Homo sapiens: one gene and its partners. The protein of the gene in region 2 purifies or fractionates together with the protein of the main gene of each other region. This does not show direct contact. Each region holds a gene or a part of one and is shown on either strand. Other genes may lie near its edges.

The links. The genes of interacting proteins can lie anywhere in the genome.
Region 1: the proteins of KCNJ5 (region 2) and PKP4 purify together in Homo sapiens (affinity purification with mass spectrometry; 2 studies listed by BioGRID and IntAct, with this or other methods). This does not show direct contact.
Region 3: the proteins of KCNJ5 (region 2) and GNB1L purify together in Homo sapiens (affinity purification with mass spectrometry; 2 studies listed by BioGRID and IntAct, with this or other methods). This does not show direct contact.

The regions. Positions count from the first base shown.
Region 1 is NC_000002.12:158,620,926-158,627,958, reverse strand, and holds part of PKP4 (plakophilin-4), read right to left. Parts: intron 6,970-7,033; coding exon 6,838-6,969; intron 6,729-6,837; coding exon 6,538-6,728; intron 3,082-6,537; coding exon 2,532-3,081; intron 1-2,531. UniProt on the Homo sapiens protein: Plays a role as a regulator of Rho activity during cytokinesis. May play a role in junctional plaques.
Region 2 is NC_000011.10:128,908,348-128,915,380, reverse strand, and holds part of KCNJ5 (G protein-activated inward rectifier potassium channel 4), read right to left. Parts: intron 5,530-7,033; exon of another isoform or gene 5,441-5,529; intron 4,118-5,440; 5' UTR 4,108-4,117; coding exon 3,171-4,107; intron 1-3,170. UniProt on the Homo sapiens protein: Inward rectifier potassium channels are characterized by a greater tendency to allow potassium to flow into the cell rather than out of it.
Region 3 is NC_000022.11:19,782,716-19,788,900, forward strand, and holds the end of GNB1L (guanine nucleotide-binding protein subunit beta-like protein 1), read right to left. Parts: coding exon 5,994-6,185; 3' UTR 508-5,993; downstream 1-507. UniProt on the Homo sapiens protein: Acts as a critical regulator of DNA damage response (DDR) signaling via specifically regulating phosphatidylinositol 3-kinase-related protein kinase (PIKK) family proteins.

The sequences.
Region 1 (7,033 bases), on a different chromosome or scaffold from region 2:
AAATAATTTTTTCAGAAGCATTTCCACTGATTAATTTTTAATAACATTACTTCCCCTTCCAAATAATGGAAAACACTGATACGCCACTGCATTATTTATCCAACCAATACTTTCTATTTGCAATTCCACAAACATATTAGTTTAGCTATTATTACGGTGATTCCATGTGATTAAAAATATTTATATTTATGGCATTAGAAATAAACATAAATTTATCTTTCAAAGATCAATTCTTTATCTCCTCAAAAGTTTTCTTTACATGCCATGATTATTCTGAAATGAACATTTTAGAGTATATATATATATATTTCTGTAGTTTGTATCATTTAAATTATGATCATCAAATACCCAAGTCCCTGAATGTAGTACAAAACATTGCTTATCAATTAGCAGGCTATTAGTCCTTTGAAATCAAGAACACTTTGCTTCTTGAGAACACTGCAGTATTTCTAGAAAAAAATCACTGAGAGGCTGGGCCTAAAAAATAGACATTATATATATTTTCCCCCCAAGACATAAAGTCTAATTTTACCTGCATTGTCAGAGAAACAGACTGTTTAAACCAGAGGAAATGAGTCCTCTTAGGGTTAAATATGGAGACAATAATTTATATGCTGGCTTCCTTCCTCCAGTCTCCTCTCTACTCTCTTACAAGCAGAGATTTCTACATAGCTGTTCTATACACACGGGGGAATATGGAAGTCCTCAGAACTATTTATTTTCTAAGATTTCCTTGGGAGGTAGAATTTCATAAATGATTCCTACATCATTTTGCTGCATACTTTTCAGAGGCATTTCAGAAAATATCTAAGTCAAGCACACTTCTTGGATAGATGAATGAAAAAGAGGTGGTTTCTCCACTAAGAATTTCTTTGAGCTCAAAAATCAAGTTCAATATAAATTCTCCAGGCAAAATTATTCAATCACAAAAATCTCAAAAAGGCTTAAATTTTCTTAGAAGACATAAAAAAGATACTAATTTTACTATGTAAGAATGTTAAACAGTTTTGTAAATTAAAACCAAAATGAAATAAAAAGAAGTGACAAAATGGAAAAAATACTTGAGAAGCATATTACGAGGTGCTAGCTTATCTCTAGTAAAAAAAAGCTTTCACGAATTATAAAAATAGACAAAAGAACTTGTAGTTTCACAAAATGAAATAAAGTCGTTGATGAACAGATTAAATCTTCAACCTCAGTCATAACTCAATAAAAGCCCTTAAAAACAATGAGGTACAGCTTTTTACCTATCAGATTGGCAAAGATGAAAAACTTGGAATATGCAGCACTAGTGCAGTGTAGACAAGGTATAGACAAACAGGCACTCAAACTACTGGCAGAAATATAAATCCGTGTGTAACCTTCTTAGAAGGCAATTCTACGTAATATCTCTCAAAGTAAAAATACACATATATTTTGATGCAGCAATTCTACTGGATCCCAGTTACCCTAGTACTTATGTGAAATATGCAGGGAGAACAATGTATGTACTACATCATCTCTAACAGCTAAACATAACAAACAACCTAACTGTCCATTAGGAGGAAAATGCAAATAAATTATGATATATCTATAAAAAATGGGTCCCATGCATCTATTAAGAATGAGGTAGAGCTCTTAAGACATAGTTAGTGAAAAGAACAAAGTATAGAAGATCTATATGATAGAATTCCATCAATAGAAAACACAATGTGTGTGCAGATTTGCATGGATTGCATATATTTGTAAATGCAAAGAAACATTCTGAAAGCCACATCAACTGTGATGGGACTGGGTGAGGGTAAAAGGCTTTCACTTATTTCAATATTTTCCCATATAGTTTTAATTTTTACCATTCTGTATATGTTACTTTTAAAATATAATTTAAAACACTAAAGTTAAATTGCATTTTATTTAAAATAACCAAATCTTTACACCATGTAGGAAACCCTCCACGAAAAACCCTGAAGTTGGAACAGCTGTATTAGGGACCCGGTGTCTTTCTGCTTTAATAGGAGTGGCATGTAAAAGTGATTCATAAGCGCTTTGTGCATTTACCGTTAAAATGCCAAAATCAAGTAGGGGATAAAATTCATAGTCTAGTCTATATTACCAAAGCATTTCTAAAGAAAAAATTTAAACATTTAAACAGATATTCTGATACCACCTTTTAACATAACTTTAGGGTATGTTTAGGGGTAGGCCTGGCTGGTAAAAAATATTTCATTAAAAAAAATTAGTCAACTGCTTAGAATTGCAACTAATACTTATGAAATGCAAAAAAAGCACATTTTAAACCCTAATATTTAGTGGGAAAATATTACAAAAGAGTTATATCCATTGCAAAAGGATTCTATTGATATAAATGTATATAATTTCATGTATTAAGAATTACAGAACCTGAAAGACAAGTTAACCTTAAGTTTATAGTTTAAAATCTGAGATTAAAAACACGAATGAGCCTTTTCCACCTTTTCATTCTTTGTTTCAACTTAAGTTACACAGAAGATTTCCTCACTGGGTTTTATGTAGCACTGTCACCTTGTACGCACCTGTCAGGCTGTCTGGCCTGGGTGGAACCATCCTCTCATAAATGTCATACTGCTGCTGTCCGAATTGCTCCATGTCATGAACAGTCCTTTGCAGTGAAGGTCCCAGATGCTGTGGTACGGCGGTCATCCCTGAGCGTTTGGGGGACGACGACCCCACCTGGCCTTGGGATGGGGAAGCTACTCGAGTCTGTGCATCCGTCAGGGTCAGTGGGGACCCCACTCTGGCGGTGGTTTGGTATTGAGGGGTTGGTCCGTTGGGATTGGAGGTCTGCCGGGAGGTGACTGACCCAATCCGCCGTATAGCTGTTGGGGAGGCGGGTCTCTGTGAGTACGGAGAGGCTGCCCGTGCAGCAGGTAATGTGGTGGAGGAATATGCACTGGGGTTCAGAGGTCGGGGGTCGGTCACTGACGGAGAGCCAAATCCACTACCCAGAGAAGTTCTCAGAGACCCCCTTGAAGGAGACACGCCTGTGCTGATAACATAAGAAGGAGACTGTGCTCTAGATGGAACTGAACTAACTCTTCTCATGGCCCGATTGGCTACTGATGGCTGATGAAAGGGGGGGAAAAAAGAGAATGGGTTTATCCAGGGTTTTGTGTTCATTGCCATTACAAAAGAAATACACATAGCTCACTACAGAATGTGAATCCACTATTTTAGGCATCTAAGATTCTTTTCCTTTTTATGCTTTGAGCCAGACATTAATTTTTCCTCACGGTGCTTTAGTTGTTTTAGTTTTTTTTTTTTTTTTTGGTGGTTTAAACCAAATGCTAAAATTAACCTGTAAAAAGAGATCTGAAGACATTTAATACTCCTTTTTTATCTTTACATTTTTAACTATTGCCTATGCATTTTTCACAGCACATAAAATGTTTTATTCTAAGTGTTACATGTAATTCATGAGCGTGAAGGGGCACCAGAACAATGTACTTACTTCATTCCCTATGAAGCAAAGTTTGGCCAAGGCAATGCATTTATGTAAAACAAAAATTTGAATATAATTTGAATATATCAGTCTAAATGTAGCTAGTGGAATATTTATCATTGTTTTTCTTTATGGGTTGGTCCCATTAACAAAAGGAACATGTTCTTTCATTGTGGAATAAATGAACATTTGGATCAAGTGTGGGTCTGGCGCTCTCCACTGTGAATTTACTTCGGGGAACAGCTTGGCTACACAGGTGCTCTAGGCAAATTTGTTGATTCCTTTAGATCAAGCATAGCTTCTCACTTTAGCCATTTCTTTTTACCTCTTCTGATCTATGAGTTCTTAGCTTTAATTGGTGGATTTAAAGAGATGCAAAAAAAAGGCACCCCCAAATCTATTCCAGCAGGAGGAATGGTCAAAGCCTCTTTTGGGTTCTTGGCCTAGACAGCTGGAAAAGACCAGGATGGAAAGTGAACATTTCTGCCATTGCTGATCCTACTCTGAATCTGTTGATTCCTGCAGTTACAGCAGGTGCTGGACACTGTTTTTCATGCTGTGCAACAATAAAAAGGAATGGTTAGGCTGGAGAAGGGGCCCAAGGGAAACATGTATGGGAAAAAGGAGAGCCAACTGAGAAATAAAGACATTAGGGATCCAGGTTAGAAGACTAGGACCAGGCTGCTCTGTTACCTCCTTAGTGGCTGCTAGAGTCTAGTTGTCATCAACCCACATCCACTTTTAGGTGGGGAGGTAAGGAAAGAAGCAGGGATCAGATGAGGGCTTTGTATACCCTTAGGGGTCATATGAGGATGTCTGCTCTGCCTCCAGGTGTCGCATGCAACTGGGCTGGCTGAAACACTTGCAGTGAGAACTCACTGTGTGTTCAAGTTCAACAATTTTGGGAAGGCAATAGCAGGGGAGAAGACATGGGGAGGAAAGAGGATGGTAAACAACAAGGCAAAAAAGATGGGGTTTAAAAATTAGTAGACAGCTGGAAAGTTAACAAGCATGATTGGGGCTGGGTGTGGTGGCTGACACCTATAATCCCTACACATTGGGAGACTGAGGAGGGAGGATTGCTTGAGGCCAGGAGCTTGACACCAGCCAGGGCAACATAGTGAGGCCCAGCCTCTACAAAAAACAAACAAACAAAAAAATTAGCTGGGCATGGTGGCATGTGCCTGCAGTCTTAGCTACTCCAGGAGGCTGAGTCAGGAAAATCGCTTGAGCCCAGGGGATTGAGACTATAGTGAGCTATGATTTTGCCATATTGTACTCCAGCCTGGGTGACAGAGTGAGACCTTGTCTCTATTAATTAAGAACAACAACAAAAAAAGCATGATTGGGTGGTAATAGTGGTAACAAAATGCAAAGAAAATCCCACATGACTTGCAACTACCAAAATGAAGTGATAAGTTGGTCCAGACAACTAGAAAATGTGTTGCCTAGACTACATGCAAATTAAGTCTCAGACACCCCCTTGCAAACAATTCTTTAGCTCTAGTGAGAAAATCAACTTACTCTTAAAGAAAAAAGTGTTTACATGATCATTACTAAGGGCAATAAAATTTATATAGATATAAGGTAACTGCTGTTGAAAAGTGTGATTTCAGACCTGCTGACACAGAAATTCACCTAAGCGGATGAACTCCCATTAGCATTTAGTCCAGAGCTTCTCAAACTTTTCCACCAAAGCATCCCCAACAGCAAAAGAATAAATATATAATCTGAGGACTTGGGGTGCAGCCTGAAGTTGCTTGCCACATGCACAAGATTTCCCATTTTAGCTTGAAAAATTCATATGTTATATTTGTGTTTAATACAAACATGTTTTAAATGACTCTGAAATTTCTCCTGAATTGCTGAGCAAAAGTGCCAAAGTTGTATTATGTTTCTCTGTGGGCGTTGGGAACCGTGACCCATTGCTGTGTACCTGTAGAGCTTCCTGTATTGCAGTAGAAGCAGCACAGTGTCCTCCTAACTTATTTGATTATCTTGCTACTTTTCAGCTCTAAAGAAAGCACTGGGGTTTTGGGGTCCTGGCACAGATAGTTAGCCTCACTGGTTACCACCATGCAGGACTCCTATTGCCTCTCTGAATCCTGGGACATGCTGGTGGACTGATGTGAATACAGTGGTAATGAGAAAGGAGCTGAAGAGTTTTTATAAATATACATGCAATATATATTTTTTGCTATCAAGTTAGAGAACCCTAACTTAACAGAATGGATATGTTTCTATACAATAACTTTCTTTAAGCAGGAATAGCTGTATTCTATCTAGTAAAAGAAAAGAAATGTAGTTTTAGAGAATAATTCCAGTGATGATGGTAATAACCTTTGGTTAGAATGGGCAAATCCCATTTTATGCAGGTGTGGGTATAGCACCCTGCCCTCTAGAGCTTTTTATAGCATATTTTAGCCCTAGTATTTTTAGGAACTCATAACCCCTCAGGGACCAAAACATTCCATTCAACTCTCTTACATTCCCCTTAGACTCTTCTCCTCATGCCAAACTTGTTGTTTCCAGAAGAATTACTCTACTGTATCCAGGAACTCATCAGAATTCATCAATGGGAGCTAACTCATAGAAACAAACATATTTAACATTGTATCTCAAATAGAATAAAATGATTTTACTATTTTATCCATTCTATAAAAATTGTACACATTTATTTCTAATAAGAAATACCTATAACAGATATTCAACTAGGAGTGTATTTCTTTTTTTTTCCTTTTTTTTTTTTTTGTTTTGAGACGGAGTCTCGCTCTGTCGCCCAGGCTGGAGTGCAGTGGTGCGATCTCGGCTCACTGCAAGCTCTGCCTCCTGGGCTCAAGTGATTCTCCTGCCTCAGCCTCCCGAGTTGCTGAGATTACAGGCGCCCGCCACCACGCCCGGCTAATTTTTGTATTTTTAGTAGAGACGGGGTTTCGCCATGTTAGGCAGGCTGGTCTTGAACTCCTGACCTCAGGTGATCCACCCGCCTCGGCCTCCCAAAATGCTGGGATTACAGGCATGAGCCACTGTGCCCGGCCGGAAGGTATTTCTTTGCAGAGATCTTGATGCGTTTGGCTTACCTGAACCAGTGTTTGTCCTTCAGCTCTTGAATTCCTCACCACATGGTTGTTAGTTGATCCTATGAATGAATGCTGCTGTCTGTTGTCTGCCTTGCTCACGTTCTGGCTGTTGTGGAAACTCCCTGCTTCCTGGTATCCACTGTCGGAATAAGAATTCATTTGTGTTGAACTTCTTGAGTTACCCAATGATCCTGTAAGAATGAAACCAAGAAATATCTTTATTATACACACTTCTGACACTCGCTTTCAAGAATAAAATCTTAAAAGCAAATCCAGTACTTAAAAGATAACACAACAGACCCTCACTTTCATGGAGAGATGTCTGTTCTGGTGAATAGAGGGTTCCTTGTTCTGGCTCTGTCCTGATGAGATAGTTGTTGGGCTGGACAGCGTCAGAAACTCTAGGTTTGCTTACACCAGTATTTGGCACGTCTGTAACAAGAAAAGTTTAATCAGCTAAATATAATAACATTACATAAAAACTTGCTAAAAAAGG
Region 2 (7,033 bases):
CACATACACACAGGAAGAGGAGCAGACGCACACACAGAGCTTGGCTTCTTGATTTGAGGCTGCTCCAATGCCTCGTTTCCCTGTCTACTCAGCCCGTGCCATGCCTATGCTATTTTTAGGTGTTGCTTTCTCTCCAGAGAGGAGGGCAGCTTTGTTTATGGATGAGGAGGCCTCTGTGCTTAGGGTCACAGGAAAGCAGCTTTCTGATATTTAATCTTCTGGCCAAGGAAGGCATTAACTGTGTTGGTTGGGTGCTGAAGGCAACCGTCTCCAGCTCCCACTTTGGGCTTTCTCTGGGAGGGGCTCATACAAAGCAGACCCAGGTCCAAGGCTGCTTCTCAGCCCCAGCGCACCCACACAGGTGCGCCCACAGCCTGCTCTCTGCTCTCAGTGATGCCTGCCTGGGCCGGGCCTCTCCCTTCAGTCGTTACCCTTGTTGTCCCCACAGCCTTGGCAGAGAGGCCCAAACCGGGCCCTGAGCAGCCTAGACCATGCCAGACGTCTGCAGCCTCCCAGGGCCTTGGGAAAGGTATGGGCAGGACCTTTCCCCTTTGGGATCCTCCTGCTCCTCATGGGGTGTGGCAGCGGCTGCCCTGTAGCTAGAGATCCTGGTGTGTCCCTGTCATTGCTCAATACGTTTGGAAAGGATTCCCCAGGTGTCAGGTATAGTGATCAGCACAGCTCCTTTTCATCTTGAATCCTCCCAACAGCCCTAAGAGATTGATTTTCCTCACTTTGCTGACAAGGTAAGCAGCTTGCTCAAACCCGCTCAGGCAGGATACGGCAGAGTTGTGCTACTCAAGCTGAGGCATGGATTCCCAGCCCACACCTGGCTGCATGTGCTTGACAACCAAACCACCCACATCCAGGACAGATGTGGGCCAGGGTCTCCTGCCCTATCTCCCTGGATCTCCCCTACAGTTTGTGGGACAGAGCAAGCATAGCCCGGGTTGTGGGAGGGGAAGGAGGCCAAACCGTGAGGACAAGTGAATGGCGGGCCCCTGACTTTGAGGGAGGTGTGGTTGGGGGTGCAGCGGGGCAGCGGGGCAGATAGCACTGGCTCCCTCCACTACGAGCCTGTGGGCGCTCTCCCTGCTGCATGGCTGGGGAGTGAGGATGGCCTTGGAGAGTGGTCAGGTGTGCTATGATTTGACCCCATGTCTCTCACCCAATCCCTTTTTTGTGGCTTCAGAGTGGAGTTCTTCCCCTGAAATGCAGCCTGTGTCCTGATTCTGACCCTGGAGGCAAGGGCAGGGTGACCTGCAAGCCCCTAGCTCTGTGGGGGAAACCTTCCTGAGTCCTGACTGTCCTCGGCCCCGGGGCTGCCCACCTGCCACCATATGCTGCCTGCCAGACTCCAGCCCCCAGCAGATGGCCGAGCAGCCACCTCTGGCACCAGTCCCTGGAGCTTGTCATTGCCCTCTCCTGGTTCCACCAACTTCAAAATGGGAAGGCTTGTGCAGTCTGGGTCTGAGTCCCCTGCCCGGCAGCCAGCTTCCTGGGGGCTGGAATGTGTGCTTGGCCATCTTCCTGACAGGCCGCTAGTATTTTAGTGGGGCAGAGTGGTGAGAGAAGCTCCAGATTTGTAAGTGGAAGAGCTGAATATGAACACTCACTGTCTACATAATGCTTTTTAGGTTCAGCCTCGACATCTGTAAAATGAGACTGAAGCCAGCCCTACACTGTCATTTGCAAGAATTGGAAAAATAGACATGCATCATTCTGAGCGTGACTGAGTTTCTAGAACCCATCCTTAGGGCCTGACCAGCTGCTCATTGTACCTGGTTGAAAAAAAAAAGAGAGAGAGAGAGAAAGGAAGGCACGAGGAAGAAATGAAATATGCAGGATGTGGGGTTTTGCTGCGAGTGGGGTGGGGACTAGGGTCCTCTGCCAGAGTTCAGGCGGTCCCAGGCCTTGGACTCCCTGGAGCCACCTCACAGAGGTCTGCCATGGCTGAGTGGCTGAGGAACTGGGGGGTCCTTGGCTACCAGCTGCTGGTGAGTCAGTAGCTGAGCAGGGAGGTGCCATGCTGGCCACACAAAGGGCATTTTCTTGGGCATACATGGATGTTGATGCCTCAGCATGGATGCACTGTTTTTTTGTGAGAAAGGAGCCTCACCTGCCCTGCGTTCACTAAACCAACCTTCTGCAAGAATGCTGAGGGCTGGCTGCCCCAGAGGGAGCCCAGCCACAAAAGCCCTTCCCCTGCAGCAAAGGTCTCTCCAAGTAAGGGGTTGGTGAGAACCTTTTGAGTTTAGGAAATTCTGCATCCCCTCCTCTCCCAGTGATGAGACTCAGTGGGTAAGGACAGCGAGAAGTCCACTGTAAAGAAACCAGTTCGCTTTTGTTTCGCCCTGTGATTACCAGAGCTATCTGACCAGGGAGCTCTTCTGGGTAGAACACTTGTTCCAAGAAGGGGCAGTTTGTCCTGTTGGAAACAAGTGCTGGCTCTGGGGTCCCTGGTCTCAATTTCCATCCTAGCTCTATCATTCGAAAGTGCTTGCTCTTGGGCAAATAATTTAGCCTGTCTGTGTCCCTGTGTCTTTATCTGTACCTTAATAAAAACTATCTTGGCTGGGCACTGTGGCTCACGCGTGTAATCCCAGCACTTTGGGAGGCCGAGGCAGGTGGATCACAAGGTCAGGAGTTCGACACCAACCTGGCCGACATGGTGAAACCCTGTCTCTACTAAAAATACAAAAATTAGCCAGGCGCAGTGGCGGGCACCTGTAATCCCAGCTACTCCAGAGGCTGGGGCAGGAGAATCGCTTGAATCCGGGAGGTGGAGGTTGCAGTGAGCCGAGATCGGGCCACTGCACTCTAGCCTGGGTGACAGAGCAAGACCCTGCCTCAAAAATAAACAAATAAACAAAACAACAACAACAATAACCCACTATATCTCATAGGGCGTGGGAGGACATTTGGCCAGATGATAGATGTTTATTGTTTAGGACAGTGCCTGAAAGTTGGGAAGTTCCTGTCAGTGTTAGCTATTGCTATTACTCAATCTTGAGTACCAGTACCCCTCAAACCACAATTTAGGGATTGAATGTGTTGCCTGCGCCACCCCAGGACTCTCAGGCACAGACCTGCATCTTCTGGAGTCACAGTTGCCTAAGTCTGAAGTGTAGGTAGGGCCACCTGTGGCTGAGGAGGACAAAGCGCCTTACCTGTGGCTTCCACCATCCCTTCTAGAATGACCACAACTTCAAACTCTTCCTGATGCAGCTGAGCCTGAGACATCTCCCAGAAAGGGCTCTTCTGGTTGATCTCATGGGAGATGATCAGAGGAGACACAAGGAAGAGGCGGTCGTCGCCCGTGTCAAAGCCCACGTTGATGTCTGTCTGGTTCAGGGGGATGAACTCCCCCTCTTTGGTCTGCCGGGACTTGATGAGCTTGGCCCGGATGGAGGCCTCCACGATGTGGGAGTTGCGGAGGTCGCCCACCCGGAACATGAGGCACAGCTTCTCGTCCCGCATGGAGATGACTGCGTTGTTGGAAAACATGAGGGTCTCCGCTCTCTTCTTGGGCTGGCTGATCTTGACAAACATGCACCCCACCATGAAGGCATTGACGATGGAGCCCAGGATGGCCTGGACCAAGAGGAGTATAATCCCCTCTGGACACTTCTCTGTGATGACTCGGAAGCCATACCCAATGGTTGTTTCGGTCTCAATGGAGAACAGGAAAGCGGACACGAAGCCACTGAGGTTTTCAACACAAGGAATCCACTCTTGGTCGCCAACATGGTCCAGGTCACCCCGGATATAAGCAATGAGCCACCAAATGAAGCCGAAGAACAGCCAGGTGACAGTGTAAACCATGGTGAAGACGAGCAAGTTGAAGCGCCACTTGAGGTCCACCAGGGTGGTGAAGAGGTCACTCAGGTACCGGTAGGTCTCCTGGACGTTGCCGTGGTGCACGTTGCACTTGCCACTCTTCTCCATGTAGCGCTGGCGTGGCTTCTTGCCCTCGGCCAGCAGGCGCGTACGGTCTGTGGCAATGGGGACATAATCGCGGGCCTGTTTTGGAATCTTCTTGGGGTCCCAGGGAGTGACTCCAATCTCCATGTCCTGGTTCATGGCATTCCTAGAATCGCCAGCCATAGCTGGGATGCTTTGAGTTAAAAAGACACCATCAGTGAAGTGGGCTGTTCTGATTCACTAGAACACAAGATGGAAGGCCACCCCCACCCCGGGGCTCTCCCAGGCTTCTCTTCTGTTATCCAGGGGTCAGGGCGTGAAATCCTCAAGGGCAGGGGCCTCACTCTCTTATAGGGTTCTTTTGTATCCCTGGTGCCTAGTACAGAGTCTAGCACAAAATAGATGCTTGCTAGCTGTTTGTTGAATGAATAAATGAACAATATCTAGGTGCAAACTACACATTAAGTGTTGAAAGGGTTTGAGAAACCTGGGAGCAATTTAAAAAGAATAATCACAATAGTTTATTAAATACCTACTGTGTCCCACGCATTACATGTGGATTGTGGCTTCTTATCGCCACAGCAATTCACTGGCATTAGATATTGGAATCCCCACTATATAAATACTATATTGTTTGCTTATGAATCAGGCTTAATTCAAACAGTCTCTCTCCCACCATCAGAATGTAAGCTCCACAGGGGCATAAGTTTGTGTTCATTTTGTTCTCTGGTATTCCAAGCACTTAGAACACAGCCCGGCACATGGATGTATTCAAAAAGTACTTACTGAGTAATTGGATGGATAAATAAAAAAACAGGCTTCCAAAGAGGTTAAGTGACACCCAGGCCACCAAATATCAGGCAGAGCTGATTTTTGGATTCCTGCTCATCTGGCCCAAGCCTGTGCTGTTTCTTTCATTCCTTGCTGTCTCTATTTATCTTGAGGTCTTTTAGCAGCAGACAGAAAGGAAAAGGCAGCATGTATCTGATTTGTCAATTGGTCACCCCTACCGTCTGAGTGTGAAGTCTGCAGCCATCTGAGTGCTTATTAAAATGACAAATTGCTGTGTAGGCCCGCCATTAGAAAATTTGATTCCCTGTCCTCTAAGAAATGGAACTGGACAGGATGTTAATGGCCCCAAAGCTCTTCAAAGGGCGTAATGTGTTTGTGGGGGTGCCTACCACACTTCCAAGAGATACCCACACACCTGCAATACAGGTGTCTGATAGTCCCCTCAAAACCCATTTAACGAGCTTTAAGACTCTCATTCAGTTGGGAAAGACCTCTTTAATTAACAATAACAGACAACATTTCTGAGCACTCAGAAGCCAGGAACTGCACTAGGAAATTTTTATCCATTGGCTGATTTAATCCTCACAACATGGTTAGATAAATACCATTATTATCCCCCCATTTTTCAGAAGAGAAGAATGAAGCTCACTTAGCATGTGACCAAGTGAGGTTTTGGGTCTAGGTTTATCTGGCTGCAGCCCAAAGGCTGACCCACAGCACTCACCACACAACGGCCAGCAGACACTGATGCTCCGGGGCTCATGCTAAGGCTGATGACCTGCTCCCTTCAGAAAGTTCTATGAGCTTCTGGCCCTGGGAAACATCACCTTAGGGATACTATCTTTCAACCCTTCTTCCTCTTTATAAGTAAGTCTTCCTTGAATTCGCAGTTACCCTCCCTCCCGGGTATAGGGTCCCCCAGGAACCCCCACTTACTTATCTGTCCTGATCGAGAAACACAGAATGCCTAGACTGCTCTGTCACTTGGCCAGCTGCATGTCTTTTCCTGCAGGCCTGAGCCCTGGAAACATTCCCTGGCACTGAAACCCTGTTTAGGTTGTTACCTGAAATACTGAAAGATTAAACATGTTGCTAAACATGTAGGAATTAGCCCAACCTTGGGCCAAATAACTCCATAACCCAGAGCCCTTGCCGCAGACATACTTAAGCGGAGCACCTCTTTTCTTGCTGTCTGTCATGAGGACCAGTGCAGCGCTCTACATGTAAGTTCCCCTAATAAGTGCTTTGGAACTTGGTGATTTCTTCTTTGGAATCTCAACTGACCCCATTTGGGGATGGTTTGGGCAGTCCCTTGCAGGAATTCCCCTGCCACCATTCTGAGGGTGACTCCAGCTGCAGGTTCCACCAGGCAGAACACCGGGAAGCTGTGTCCCCAGTAGAACAACCTGGAAAAAGGCCTGTCAACCACTGAGCTGACTGCCTAATGGCAAACCAAGGTAGATCCCAGCTGTCCTGGGGAGTCAGATGACCCTGGCAGGCCTTTTCCTGTGCTGCCTGGGTGATTATAGCAATTTCAAGATAACCTTTAAAACATCATATCAAAAGGTCATCTGAAGGGCTTTGTCCCAGATGTCCATTGGCCATTTCCCATTCTGCATAGGGCCACCTGCTTCCTGCTCCTTCATGTGGCAGTTAACAAGGATAAATGAGACAAGGAGGAAAATGCTTGGGGCTATCTTTGCAGAATCCCAAGCAGGAATTTGCTCTGCCTTAAGTGGGAGACTTCATCCTGAAAACTCAATCACAGATGCTCAGAGATGATGGAAAATGCTGCTGTCCCGAGGCCCCGTGTATTCTGGACACCCCAGCTGTTGGAACCAAGATAGGCTTCCAATGGGGGTGCCGCTGCGGACTCCCTGAGCCACTGAGGTTGGGCAGGGCAGGCACAGTGCCACAAGAATGAGTCATTGGCCGGGGCACATGGGAGCTCACATCCTCCTGTACTCAGCTCTTTGGGGAAACAGCTTGCTGCTGATTTTCTGCACTGTTTCCTTCTTTATTTTTAAACATACTTGCATACATTCTTGTAGGCGAAGGCTTTGTGCCGTACTAGAAACGGGAAAATGTTTTCTAGGAGACTTCAGCCCAGATAGGAAAACTTTTTGCGTCTGGCAGATAGGAAAGGGTGGTTTACTTTTGATTTGATATTGGGACGCATTCCTGTGCGCTGGAATCATCCGCAGAAGTCATCCCTTGCTCAACCCAGGGTAACATCTGGATTCTGACTCAGTGTCCAACAAACCAGCTTTGTGGTCCAAATACAAACAAACTTAACTTTCTTTGCCTCAGTTTACTC
Region 3 (6,185 bases), on a different chromosome or scaffold from region 2:
CCACCTACTGATGGTGTGTGAGGCTGATGTGCATGGATTCTAGCTCCTTCCCTGTTTCTGGGGCCTCAGCTGTCTGTGTTCACTCTTTCTTGCTACACAAAGAGAAACAAGGACAAGCCTTATTTGATAAAGGCCACAAACACTTTGACCTTCCTCCACCCAGTGTAGGGATCTGTTTCCCCTCTCCTGGACTCCAGGGCTGGTCACAGAAGGCTCTGGGCTCCAACCTGGCTTGCTGGACGTGCTCTTGAAGCCCCCAAGTAAGAAGTCTGAGTCCCTGAGACCACCACACTGCAAGGACACTTGAAGGTACTCAGGTTGGTGGTCCCCGCTGTGCCCAGCCCCTGAATGAAGCCAAGGCTCCAAGCACCTGAGTGAAGAGGCTGTGATGGAAGCGAATCCTCCAGCCCTGGCCATCACCCCGTGGAGTAGACAAACTGCTCAGCCCAGCCTCTCCTAAATTCCCGACCCACGGAGCCCACGTGCCCAGAATGGCTGTTATGCTGCTCTGTTTGAGGTGGTTTATTAATGTAGCAAGAGATAATGGCACCAGGATGAGGCCAAATGACTCGATTTCTCTACACCCCACATTTTACAGGTTTCAGAGCCCAAGTCAGGAGGTCAAGTGTGCATGCAAGAGGTGGCAGGGGACAGATGTGCTGCTGTTCCCAGGCCACCTGCACAGCTGGATGGTGGAAGCAGTTCACTTAAAGGCCATGAGTTACTCGGGAGGCTGAGGCAGGAGGATCACTTGAGCCTATTAGTTGGAGGCTGCAGTAAGCTATGATCATGCCACTGCACTCCAGCCTGGGTGACAGAGTGAGACCCCCACTGTCCCTGGTCTCTTAAAAGAAAAAACAAACAAACAAACCAAAAAACAAAACAGCTTATGAGCACCTCCTACTAATTTCCTCAGCTTAGCACACCCTGTGGCCGTTGTCCCCATCGTCCGTGGCTTCATCCCTCAACTGATGCTTTCCTATGTGGACTTCCCGGCCAGTGCTGTGGGACCTCCCCTGTAGGGCTGGCCAGCCTCATGGGCTGGGCTACCCGTCCCACTCAGCAGTGGCTGCCTGGCCTCCCCTCTGTCCCTCCTGCCCAGCTCCTAATGGGCCTCCCATAAAAGCTGATGCGTGGGAGCCAAGCCACAGCTCGCTGACCTGGGGAAGCTGACAGAGTGACAGAGGGTCTCAAGGACTCTCCACCCACAAGGCGGGAATGGGGATGCTGGCAAATCTGGTATGAAGGTTGAGACCCCGAGGAGAGGCAGGCCTGGGGGACCGTGCAGCAGCTGTGCCCACCTAGGACCACAGGGCTGGTGGGGCTGGCAGCTTGGTAGAGGGCAGGTGCACAGCAAAGTTTTCACCGGTGCCGGCTTGTTGTCTTCCACGCTGGGATTTCACATGAAGTTCTAGCTAATTGAGTATAAGCATTTCTAAAGAACCCCCGGAGGGTTGTTTTTCTTTGTGCAAACACTCCTTTTGTGCAGAGGGTGTTCTGTGGCTTCTTGGCAGAGACACAGGTGGGAAACACCTGATTGAACATCATTGCCTGGGGAGTGGAGACACGCACAGCACGTCAACATGGAGCGCCCAGCAGCGGCGGCGGGTCCTGGGCTGTGCTCCGGAGCCCTTCCCGGGATCATCTCCCGGCATCGGCTGACCCCTCGGTGTCTACGTGCCAAGCCCAATCTGCCTGCAGGGACACCCACTGCCAGAGGCGGAGGCAGGTTCTCCTGGTCCCAGACCCAGGGCCGTCTGTTGGCCTGCAGGTAACACGCAGGGAGGAAGGAAAAGGCTCTAGGCACAGCTGCTTGTCTAAGAGGGACCCTGTTGGCGGCGCAACGCTGGGTGAGTGCTGCCCGCCCGCGGATGGGGTGCTGGCCGAACCTACCTTGTAAAGTGGGGCTGCACAGAGGTCAGCACATGGTGGCGCCCACCGTCGAGAGGGGAGGCCCCTTGGCACTGGAGGCAGGGCCTCACCAGGCAGACGTGCCAGGACCCGCGTCCCTGCACACAGCTGCCCACCGGCCAGTGGAGTGGGACCTGCTGCCCCTCTGACAGCTCCTGGTAATCAGAGGGGCCCACTCCACCTGCACCGGAGGCAGCGGCTGGGGATGCTGGAGCATACGGCTCCAGCCACTCAGGATCCCACTCTGGGCCGTGAAAGTTACTCCACAGAACACCCCAAGGCCACCCCTGCTGGCTGTGAAGACACCACCAGGCGGACAGTGCCCAGGGCTGGGGCTCACAGCCACGAGAATCTGGATTTGAACAGAAAAAGCCCCCAGCCGCGCTGCCACCCTGACGCAGCCTTGTGGGGCCCTGAGCAGAGGACCAGCTACGTTGTGCCCGTGCCTCGACACATGGAAATTCTTCCAATAAGAACAGGATGGTGGGCCGGGCGCAGTGGCTCAGGCCTATAATTCTAGTGCTTTGGGAGGCTAGAGGCGGGAGGATCGATCGCTTGAGCCCAGGAGTTCGAAACCAGCCTGGGCAACATAGCGAGACTCCTTCTCTATAAAAAAAAATAAAAAATTAGCTGGGCATGATGGCCTGCACCTATGTGGGTGGTCCTGAGCTTCTCGGGAGGCTGAGGCAGGAGAATCGCTTGAACCTGGGAATCAGAGGTTGCAGTGAGCCGAGACTGCTCCATTGCACTCCAGCCTGGGGGACAGAGTGAGACTCTGACTCAAAAAAAAAAACACCCCAAAAACACAGGATGGTAGAACACACCTACCTGAGTTGGCACTGAAAATGGCAAGAAATGTCCGCCGTTGTTTCCAAACACCAAGTTCTCTCTGGCTTGAGAGGCCTCACTGCTACCCAAGAGCATTATGGAGGAAGATGTGGAAGGGCTGCCTCTCCCAGTTGGTGGGTTGGCCAGGGGCGTGATGGCAGCGACCAGCCATGCTGCCAGGAGTCGCCTCTCAGGTTCATCCCAGGAGCTGCATGCTGACCTTCGCGTGCTGCCTCCGGGCCACCCCTCCTCCCCACTTAATGCCTTCACTGCTGGCTCTGTTGGCGTTCCTGCCAGCCTACAGGAAGTGGCTGTTTGCTAGGAAGAGAATGCCAATGTTCAGGTGCATCTTTTCCAAGCTGGATGTCTGGAGCTGAGACCGTTTCTTCTTCTGTTGTGGGGGTTTCAAGGCTGGTCAGACGCATGGTGATTCATCACGACCCAGGTTCTGTTGACACAAAGGCCGACCTGTCCAGAGCCACATGGCTCTGCTGTGGACACCACGGAGCAGCTCAAGAGAGGAACAGGACCAGGAGGGCTGCACTGCTCTTGGCCGGCTTGGACCCCAGCACCGGTTCTGCTGCTCTCCCAGGCAGCTCAGCCAGGTGAATGAAAGTCCTGGGCCTGCCCTCCACAGGACGTCTATAAGGCCTCAGAAGCTGGATCTGCCTGGCAAGGGGGGCCCTATCTGCCTAGCCACCCAGATGCGGGCACGTGGCCCCGTTGTGCACTGGAGGGGTGAGGGCTGTGTTAGGCATGCAGGACTCACGCTGTCCCGACTCCATCCCTGCACACTGAGATTCAGAACAAGATGTGCCTGGACACTGCTCAACGCCACATGGCCTGGGGCAGGGAGCTCAAGGCCAGGCTAGGGGGCAGCCGCCTGCCATCCACCCTGCTTGTGCCTTTGACTGAAAGCACGAGGGCCAGGGGCCAACTCAGGGTCTGTACACCCTGCCCACAGCTCTTCATGGCCTCTATGTAAGACATCAGCAGGCAGTGCCACTCGCCAACCTCATGCTGGCATGCACACCTGGGCCCTCATGTGGGATACCCACCTCGTGGCTGTGGGACGTAGGGAGTTTTGTAACTACAGTGATGATGCCAAAGATGACAGGGACATAAACAGGGGAAGGGGTAGAGGCCCAGAACCCTCAGGGTGGGAGCTGAGGCGGGGCAGATGTGCCTTTGGCAAGGCTGTCAAGGGCATGCAGGGAAACTGCAAAGCCAATTCCCACTCCACCTACCCTGCCGCTGTCATGGGGATGTCAGAACCTGACACCTTCCCTCACTGTGACAGCCTGTGATGAGCACCCAGGGCACAGCTCCCTCAGCACCTGCAGTCACTGCAGCCTAAACCCAGGACCCTTCCCCTCCCTGACACCTCAGTGATATGAAAATACCTCCCGGAGTGCCCTACGCATCCTGGCGGCTATAGGACACTCGAGGAAAAGCAGCAGGGCCCCCCTCTCCAAAGGTCCTGGGCACCTGGTGGCCACCCTTGTCCAACGGAGCCAGGCCAGTACCCGAGCCAGGTGGTCTCCAAGCTTGGGCCAGGGGCCGCTTTCCCGGCCAGCACTGACATTCCCGTTTGATGGAACGGTCCCCATGGTACCTCTGACCAACAGAGAAGTGTGGTCACAGGACTCCTCAAGGACTCCGGGCCCCCCAGCAACCATGTTCCTCACAGTGGGGTTGGGGAGGCACGGCCTTGGGACCCCCTGCAGTGGGTGCACAGGTCTCACTGACAAATCCAACACCCCCATCCCCAGGCCTTGGAAGCCCTCCTCGGCTGTACCCCACGGCGGCTGGCCATGTCCACTTCACTCAGTGCAGCCACCCTCAGGCTGTAATCCAGCCCCCACCCCCAGCCCGGCACTGGAGCCTTCCTGGCCCCAAGCTGCAGCGCCCAGTCCAGCCCTCCGTTTGGCAGGTCTGTTCCGGGAACTCCCCTGATCCACCCCTGCTCCGGCCACCTGGATCCCACACCCTTCCGATCCGTCCCACACATGTTCAGATTTCTGCCTGGAAACCTGGAAATGCCATGTGGTCCTGCAGGAGGCTGGTGCCACTCTCAGGGTCACCCTCTGTATCTCATCCTGGGGGTCTGCTGGACTCGAGTCTAGTTCTAGGACTAGAAGCCCAGGTGGGGGTCCCAAGGAGCATCGGCAGGGCCTTGCAGGGCAACTGCCTCAAGGGAGGCCACCCCGGGCCTTCAGCTAGAGGGGCTCTTCCGGCAATCCGGGCAGACACAGGCGTGTGTGGTCCCAGCTTCTCTGGATCTGCCCATGGGCCCCACTCCAATATTCAGGGTCATGGTTCTTTCCCAATCAACACCCGCTTTTAGGAGGAGACGACCGGCCAGGCTGGGCCCGGCTGCATGCAGTGTGAGGCTCTGGCTGCTAAGTCCTGCTCTTGCTGTGTTGTGCCCTGGGGGCCACCCTGTGTGCAGCCGCAGCTGTGACTGTGGCCTTGGCCACTGTGAGGCGGTGCTTGTCACACTCCCTTGCTGCTCTCGTGCCTTCTGCCCAGCACTCACCTGGAGGTGCACCCTGTGCGCCTTCCCCACTGCACCCTCTGCGGGCAGGCGTGCCCTCCCGGATCCCACATCTGGCCTGGCCCTGTGCGCTGCAAGCCCCCCTTGCCGTCCCTCACAGGCACCTTTCTCTGCTTCACTCTTTAGGGAGTTCAGTTACTTCCTGATCCTGATCCTGGCCTCAACCTGTGTGTTGGGAGCTCCTGGCCTCCTCGGGGTGAGGGGTCATGTGGACATCGACGCAGCTATGGTTGGGGCCTATCATCTCCTGAGGCCTGGCCCAGGAAACCCACACTCGGGGTGGCCCATTCAACAGCAGGTGTGAGGGTGGGGCTGAGCATCCTGCCTGGTGGGGGTCTGAGGGCACTGATGCTAAGTGGGGGACCAGGGCCTCCTCAGGGAGCTCCCACCTCAAGCCTGCAACTTGGCAATGGAAATTTATTATAAAATACCCTCAGCTGGCAACACAGCAGGCCCAAGCCAACGTCTCCTGCAGGCCTCGGACGGCCAGGGCTCTGGCTGGCCCCCAGAGTCACCGTCCTGTGATGAGGCACTCCACAAAAGGAAATACCAACCTCATGAAGACAGCGGGGACTCCATGGTCCTTGGGCCATGACTTGCTGGTCCTCAGAGGCCCTTGAGGTTTCAGGCCAAGGCTGGGGCCTGATGCCCACCTCCCTGCCCGCCCTCCTCGTCTCCCGGGAAGGGAGTGGGTGAGTCATGCGCGTGGGTAGAGTGACCAGAGGCTGATCCGCTGATCCTTGGAGCCCGCGGCCAGCAAGCCATCGGCGGTGAAGGCCACGCACTGGACAGCGGCGCTGTGGAAGGCCAGCACGGCCAGTGGCTGCATCGTCCGCCAGTGGAACACGCGGATGCGGTGGTCCCAGCCTGCGGTGGCCAGGATCTTGCG